Homo sapiens: one gene and its partner. The protein of the gene in region 1 interacts with the protein of each later gene in a pairwise test. Each region holds a gene or a part of one and is shown on either strand. Other genes may lie near its edges. The genes, in order: PPIL3 and SLU7.

Region 1 (3,825 bases):
TGATAAAAAATTCAAAGTTAAAATAATTCTTTCCATCAAAATATTTACTTCCAAATTTTTGTCATGGATACTACTTAACCCTAACATTTATATTCTGGAGTTTTTTCTCTACTGTTGGGATCAATTTTGAGAAAAAAGTACAACTTAACCTCTAAGAGCTGCTTTGTGGATGGGTCATCTCTGAAGCAGTATTTCTGTCTGTTTTTATTCAGATTATCATCTTGAATATCCACACAGGGAAATAAACAATGCATAAAGTCACCTAAATAAATTTCATTTGTTCTCACATTTTCTCTCCTTTTTAGTCTGTGACACTGCATACAGATGTAGGTGATATTAAAATTGAAGTCTTCTGTGAGAGGACACCCAAAACATGTGAGGTAAGTACTATTATTTACATATTCAACATCAGTTAATACAACAAGATAAGCACTTTGGAATTGAATAATCTAACCTAAATAACAACAACAAAACTTTCTGTAAAACCATTGTTAGGGAAAACTAGCCATCCTAACTTCTGGCCTGATTTCCACTTATTTGTCCAATGTCAAAGGTGGATCAAAGAGAACGTAGATAATTTTTCGGTAACGATAGAGTAGCCAGTATCTTTTTCTTTTGAACTAATTTTCTTCAGGAAACGTAATCATTAGGACATTATATTACTTTTTTCTTTCTTTTTTTTTATTTATTTATTATTATTTTTTTTTGAGATGGAGTCTCGCTGTGTCCCCCAGGCTGGAGTACAATGGCGCGATCTCGGCTCACTGCAACCTCCGCCTCCTGGGTTCAAGCAAGTCTTCTGCCTCAGCCTCCCGAGTAAGTGGGATTACAGGCGTGCGCCACCATGCCTGGCTAATTTTTGTATTTTTAGTAGAGACAGGGTTTCACCATGTTGGTCAGGCTGGTCTCAAACTTCTAACCTCAGGTGATCCATGCACCTCAGCCTCCCAAAGTGCTGGGATTACAAGCATGAGCCACTGCACCTGGCCTTTTTTTTTTTTTTTTTTTTCTCAAGACGGAGTCTTGCTCTGTCACCCAGGCTGGAGTGCAGTGGCATGATCTTGGCTCACTGCAACCTTCGCCTCTGGGGTTCAAACGATTCTCCTGCCTCAGCCTCCCAAGTACCTGGGATTACAGGCACCCACCACCATGCCCAGCTAATTTTTATATTTTTTTAGTAGAGACGGGGTTTCACCATGTTGACCAGGCTGGTCTCAAACTTCTGACCTCAGGTAACCCGCCTGCCTCAGCCTCCCAAAGTGTTGGGATTATAGGCATGAGCCTCCATGCCCGGCAGGATATTATATTAAAGAATTGTTGTATACTTTTTTTTTTTTTGAGACAGGGTCTTGCTCTGTCGCTCAGACTGGAGTGCAGTGGTGCAATCACGGCTCATTGCAGCCTCAACCTCCTGGGCTCAAGCAATCCTCCCACCTTGGCCTCCCAAGTAGATAGGACTACAGGCGTGTGCCACCATGCCAGGCTAATTTTTTTTAAATTTTTATGGAGACGAGATCTCACTATGTTGCCCAACTTGGTCTCGAACTCCTGGTCTCCAGCCATCGTCCCATCTCAGCTTCCTGAAGTATTGGAATTATAGGCGTGAGCCACCATGCCTGGCCTGTTCTATACATTATTTCGCCTGTTTATTTTTATTTATTTATTTATTTATTTTGAGACAGAGTTTTGCTCTTGTTGCCCAGGCTGGAGTGCAGTGGCCCAATCTTGGGTCACTGCAACCTCCGCCACCCAGGTCCAAGGGATTCTCCTGCCTCAGCCTCCCAAGTAGCTGGGACTATAGGCGCCAGCCACCATGCCCAGCTAATTTTGTATTTTTAGTAGAGATGGGGTTTCACCATGTTGATCAGGCTGGTCTCAAACTCCTGACCTCAGGTGATCCACCCGTCTTGGCTGCCCAAAGTGCTGCCCAAAGCCACTGCACCCGGCCTGTGTCACCTGTTTAAATGACAAGGATGGAAGGAAGAAGAGTCACCTGTATATATTCATTTATTCAGCAATTATTTATGGCTGGGCATGGTGGCTCACATCTATAATTCCAGCACTTTGGGAGGCTAAGGTGAGCTCAGAAGTTCTAGGCTTACCTAGGCAATATAGTGAGACCCCCATCTCTACAAAACAATACAAAAATTAGCCAGATGTTGTGGTGTGACCCTGTTGTCCCAGCTACAAGGGAGGCCAAGGTGGGAGAATTGCTTGAGCCTAGGAGGTCAAGACTGTAGTGAGCTCTGATCACACTGCTGCACTCCAGCCTAGGTGACAGAGCAAGACCCTGTCTCAAAACGAAACAAGAAACCCATTATTCGTGAAAGGCTATCTTGCCCCAGAGTCTGGAGATACAGTGATGAGCAACAGACATTCCTTACCCTCATGGAGCCAATATTTTAGTTGTAAAAATAAGCAGGGCAGGAAAATTAAGTAATTATATTTTTAAGAAATTATTTTCATTTATTTATTTTTTTTTTAAAGATAGAGATGAGGTCTTACTATGTTGCCCAGGCTGGTCTTGAACTCCTGGACTCAAGTGATCTTCCTGCCTCCCAAAGTGCTGAGATTACAGGTGTGAGCTGCTGTGCCTGGCCTAAAATTAAGTAATTCTAAAAGATGATAATGCCTTGAAAAAAATTAAGTGTTGAGATAGAGAATAATGGGAAAGGAAGAAGGTGAGGGCAGGTGTAGCCAATAAACTAATACTTAAATTAAATGCAAAGGTATGAGGGCATCTCCATGGAAAGAGGTATAGAAAGAATATTCCAGGTATTCAGATTCAGAAAAGGTTGTGAAATAAAATTTTAAAAAATTCCAAGACCAGGCACGGTGGCTCACACCTGTAATTCCAGCACTTCGGGTGGCTGAGGCAGGAGAATCATTTGAGCTCAGGAGTTCAAGACCAGCCTGGGCAACATAGGGAGACACTGTCTCTACAAAAAAAAAAAAAAAAAAAAAAGAACATTCCAGATATAGAAATCTCAGGTACAGAGTACCCCAGGTAAGAAAAGCTGCCCCTTTTGGATTAATTGTCAGAATGCTGATGGAGTTTAGGTAGTAAGCAACAAGAAAGCAGTTCTTAGTATATGTGATGAGGAGATGAGCCAGGTACTGCAGGGCTTGTTAGGCCCTGCTGAAGATTTTCTTTTTGTTTTTGGTTGTTTTTTTTTTTTTTTGAGACGGAGTCTCTGTCGCCCGGGCTGGAGTGCAGTGGTGCGATCTCGGCTCACTGCAACCTCCGCCTCCCAAGTTCACGCCATTCTCCTCCCTCAGCCTCCAGAGTAGTTGGAGGCGCCTGCCACCACACCCAGCTAATTTTTTGTATTTTTAGTAGAGATGGGGTTTCACCATAGCCAGGATGGTCTCGATCTTCTGACCTCGTGATCCACCCACCTCGGCCTCCCAAAGTGCTGGGATTACCGGCGTTAGCCACCATGCCCGGCGAAAGATTTTGTATTTTATTTCAAGAGGAGAAGGAAGCTATTGAAGTGTTGTAGGCAGGGAAATGACATCCAAAGTAATGACAACAGTCATAGTTTAAATATGCTGCTATCACGTTTTCAGTAAATATGATTGGTTTTTTGTCTTAACTGGGTTTCTGCTGCATCATTTCTCAATCATTTTTACTCCCTTCAGAATTTCTTGGCTCTTTGTGCCAGTAATTACTACAATGGCTGTATATTTCATAGGAATATCAAGGGTTTCATGGTTCAAACAGGAGATCCAACAGGTAAGTTATTCCATTAACCAAGATCTAAGGAACTGAATGTATAGTATGAAGAAGTGGGTAAAAGAAGAGGAATTAAATACGTGGAGTTT
Region 2 (3,825 bases), on another chromosome or scaffold:
CTGTGAAGACATGAACCCAGTAATATTTTCTTTTTGGACTTACTAGGAAACTAGTAACGTTTAATGAATACAGTATGTCTGAAGACTAACACATTTAGAAATTAATATTTATTGGGTACTTTGGACATCTTAATCTTTCTGTTACCATTTTGTGGTTATAATCTTAATTAAAATTCTCTTGAAATTTGCTGGCTTTATAGACAGTGTAATAAAATTATTTACAATGGCACTCTTGTATTCAGAATTTTTGCGCTCATTATAACTGAGAAGTGTGAGAGTTTGTTCAGTTAGAATTAAGTTTTATTATCTTAATACTTATTTATAAGTTACATATTATATATTATATAATAAATATTTATTATATATAATATAAATATAATATATAATAAAATATATTTTATTATATAAATATATTATTTATAATAAGATAATAATACTTTATTATCTTAATAATAAAGTTAATTGGATTAAGTGGAATGAGATTATGAATGATTTTTCTTCTTTCATGATGCAGAATTCTCCAAAACACCAGTGGGGAGAAGAGGAACCAAATTCTCAGATGGTAATACATATTTGCTGTCTCTGAGTATATGTTAAATTTTTAAATTTCTGATGGCTAATAATAAATAACACTAATAATAGCTTTTAAAGAACACAAGTAAATAAGGGTTTGGTTAAAGGGAAAGGGGAAAAAAAAGAACTACATGCTGCTTTCTTTTCTTCTTACTTTTCCTTCCTCTCCCTCTTTTAGGAAAAAGATCATAATAGTGAAGATGAGGATGAAGATAAATATGCAGATGATATTGACATGCCTGGACAGAATTTTGACTCCAAGAGACGAATTACTGTCCGGAATCTCAGGATTCGAGAAGATATTGCAAAAGTAAGTCTTGTCAGCTTAACATACATATTTGAAAAATACTTGTCTTCCCAGCATAAATTTTATCGACTCTGGGTAGCATATGGATAATATAGTCAGAGTCATTCTAAGATAAGGTTTCATTCTGTTTTTTCTCTTCACCTGAACCCCAGAAATGTATACACACATTTATTTAATTGATCATGTTCAACTCCTCCAACTAGTCTGCTGAAATCTTTTTGCTGTGAGTAAACATTAATTCTTTAAATATTTTTTTCTTCTAGTATTTGAGGAATTTAGATCCAAATTCTGCCTACTATGATCCAAAAACTAGAGCAATGAGAGAGAATCCTTATGCCAATGCAGGAAAGAATCCAGATGAGTAAGTATCAAGTTAAATGTACAGATTTTAAGATGAGAGAAAGTTAATTGTTTTCTGACCTGACCATAGATGGTGTTCATTTTAATTCAGATTCAGTTTTACGAATTAATTTTCCTTAAATCAATCTCTGAAACATTTTCTTTATTTGTATTTACAGAGTGAGTTATGCTGGAGATAACTTTGTTAGGTACACAGGAGATACCATTTCAATGGCTCAGACACAGTGTAAGTGTTTCCTCTATGTCAAGCCATTTTATATCAGCTCATAAGACGTTTGGGATTGTTTAAAGCTTGTTTTCAAGAAGCATACAGTAATGCAGCTGCCAACTCACTAAGATGTTTTGAATTACTCTAGTGTTTGCATGGGAAGCCTATGACAAGGGATCTGAAGTGCATCTACAGGCAGATCCTACAAAGCTAGAGCTGTTGTATAAGTCCTTCAAAGTCAAAAAAGAAGATTTCAAAGAACAGCAGAAAGAAAGCATCCTGGAAAAGGTAATTTTGACCAAAATGCTAAAGAAGAACTTCTGTTAAAGAGAAGTTACTAGTTAATAAGCGTTAGTTTTACATTTGGAAAATAATGCAAAGAGAGCCCTCTTAATCCATGAAGAATAGTCCTTTTCTTCCTTTCTCTTAGTCAGATGGTAATTTTGTATGAGCTTTTGCAGCAAAACAAGCTACCTCAAATCTTAATAGCTTAAAATAAACATTTATTGTTTCTCACAGTTGGCCAAGTCTCCTGGTCTGGGCTTGCTCAGCTGAGGTTAGATGATGAACTAAGATGGCCTCACTCTTGTGTTTAGCAGTTAACAGGCTAATTGTCCTAAGGGGACCTCTTCTGGGACAGCTCATCTCCACCCCATGTGGTCTTTCATCCTCTAGTAGGGTAGCACAGCTTTTTAAAATGGCATTCTCAGAGTTCTAGAGAGTGGCAGCAAAAAGTGTGCTGTGGTACATAAGTGCCTTTGCTTGCATCACATTTGCCAACTTTCATTGGTCAAAGCAAATAACATGGTCAGGCCCAGATTCAAGGGACAGAGAAAGACTTCGTCTCTTGATGGGAAGAAAAGCAAAGCCCTGTGGCAAAAGGGCATGTATAGAAAGATAAGAGGAATTTATGGCCATCTTGTAACTTACTGTACTCAACAGATGAATAGCAACTGAGACATCTTCTATTTGCCTCAGAAAAAATTTGTGGCTTTTTTTTTCCTACTGTGCTTTCTATAACAAAACCCAGTAAAGAATGTTCCCTTTCTTTCTGATTAGAAATAAATGTTTTCTGGAAATTTAAATGCAAATCAGGTTGTAAAATGTATTGAATAATGTCCAATGTCCTTTTAGTATGGTGGCCAAGAACATTTGGATGCCCCTCCAGCTGAATTGCTTTTAGCCCAGACTGAAGACTATGTGGAGTACTCAAGACATGGGACAGTCATCAAAGGACAGGAGCGGGCTGTTGCCTGCTCTAAGTATGAGGAGGATGTGAAGATCCACAATCACACAGTATGTGCTAAACTGGAACAATTTTGTGTCCTTGTTGGTTTTGCTCTGTATTGCATTTTTCCACTACAACTTTATTAGCTAACCATTTGTATTCTCTATGCTTTAAAAAAAAAAAAAAATTTTAACTGTTTCATGGAATTTTTTCAAAAATAGAAAAATTTTGAAGGAATACTATGTTCATCTATATACCCATCATCTAAATTCTGAAATTTTTAACATATTGCCTTATATGCTTTGTCTAGTTGTATGTGTGCATATGCACAGTTTTACATATATATGTAAAATACACATATATACACACATATAGTTTATGTATATATTTATTTGACTGAAACATTTGGAAATTATGTATATCATGACATTTTATCCATAAACGCTGTATCACATATCTCCTTAAAATGAGGATTTTCTTCTATATAACCACATCGACATTATTGCACTTCAGAAAATTAACATTATATCACCTAATATCTAGTCATTAATCACATTTTCCAAAATATACAGAAAAATGCCTTTAACACCTATTTTTTGTTTTAGTCAGAATTCGTTTCAAATTTCTTTTGATCGTTATGCGGTTATTATGTCTCTTTTCTAGAGTGTATCTCTTCATTTTCATGACGGTGACCATTTAACAGATTAGGCCAATTAGTTTGTAAATTGTCTCATATTCTGTATTGACTGGTTCCTAGTAGTGTTATATAACTTGTTTCTCTATCCCTGTATGTTTTATAAATAGGAATTTAGGTCTAACGGCTTGATTGGATATAAGTTAAATATTTTGACAAGAATATTTAATAAGTAATGTAGTATATTCATATTGCATTGTAAACATCATAAAGCATATATTGTCCTTTGCTGTTCTCTTGAAGTAACCAAACTACAATTGTCTCTCTTAGTTGAGGGTCAAAAACCTAACTCCCTATAGGAGCCAGACCAGTGATCATACATGAGTGAAGTGAGCCAGGCAAATTGTACAAACTGGAGAACACAAGCCCTATCTAATGGGGCATCCACTGTTCAGCAACAGCTGATTATTGCCAAGTGGTTATATAGGCCCAGAATTTCCCACTCCTACGTTTTT

The links.
Region 2: the proteins of PPIL3 (region 1) and SLU7 interact in binary tests that used the Homo sapiens proteins (3 or more experiments, as listed by UniProt).

Annotation. Positions count from the first base shown.
Region 1 is NC_000002.12:200,882,253-200,886,077, reverse strand, and holds part of PPIL3 (peptidyl-prolyl cis-trans isomerase-like 3), read left to right. Parts: intron 1-305; coding exon 306-380; intron 381-710; coding exon of another isoform or gene 711-816; intron 817-3,642; coding exon 3,643-3,736; intron 3,737-3,825. UniProt on the Homo sapiens protein: PPIases accelerate the folding of proteins. It catalyzes the cis-trans isomerization of proline imidic peptide bonds in oligopeptides. May be involved in pre-mRNA splicing.
Region 2 is NC_000005.10:160,405,387-160,409,211, reverse strand, and holds part of SLU7 (pre-mRNA-splicing factor SLU7), read left to right. Parts: intron 1-514; coding exon 515-562; intron 563-751; coding exon 752-883; intron 884-1,143; coding exon 1,144-1,241; intron 1,242-1,398; coding exon 1,399-1,466; intron 1,467-1,596; coding exon 1,597-1,736; intron 1,737-2,582; coding exon 2,583-2,744; intron 2,745-3,825. UniProt on the Homo sapiens protein: Required for pre-mRNA splicing as component of the spliceosome. Participates in the second catalytic step of pre-mRNA splicing, when the free hydroxyl group of exon I attacks the 3'-splice site to generate spliced mRNA and the excised lariat intron.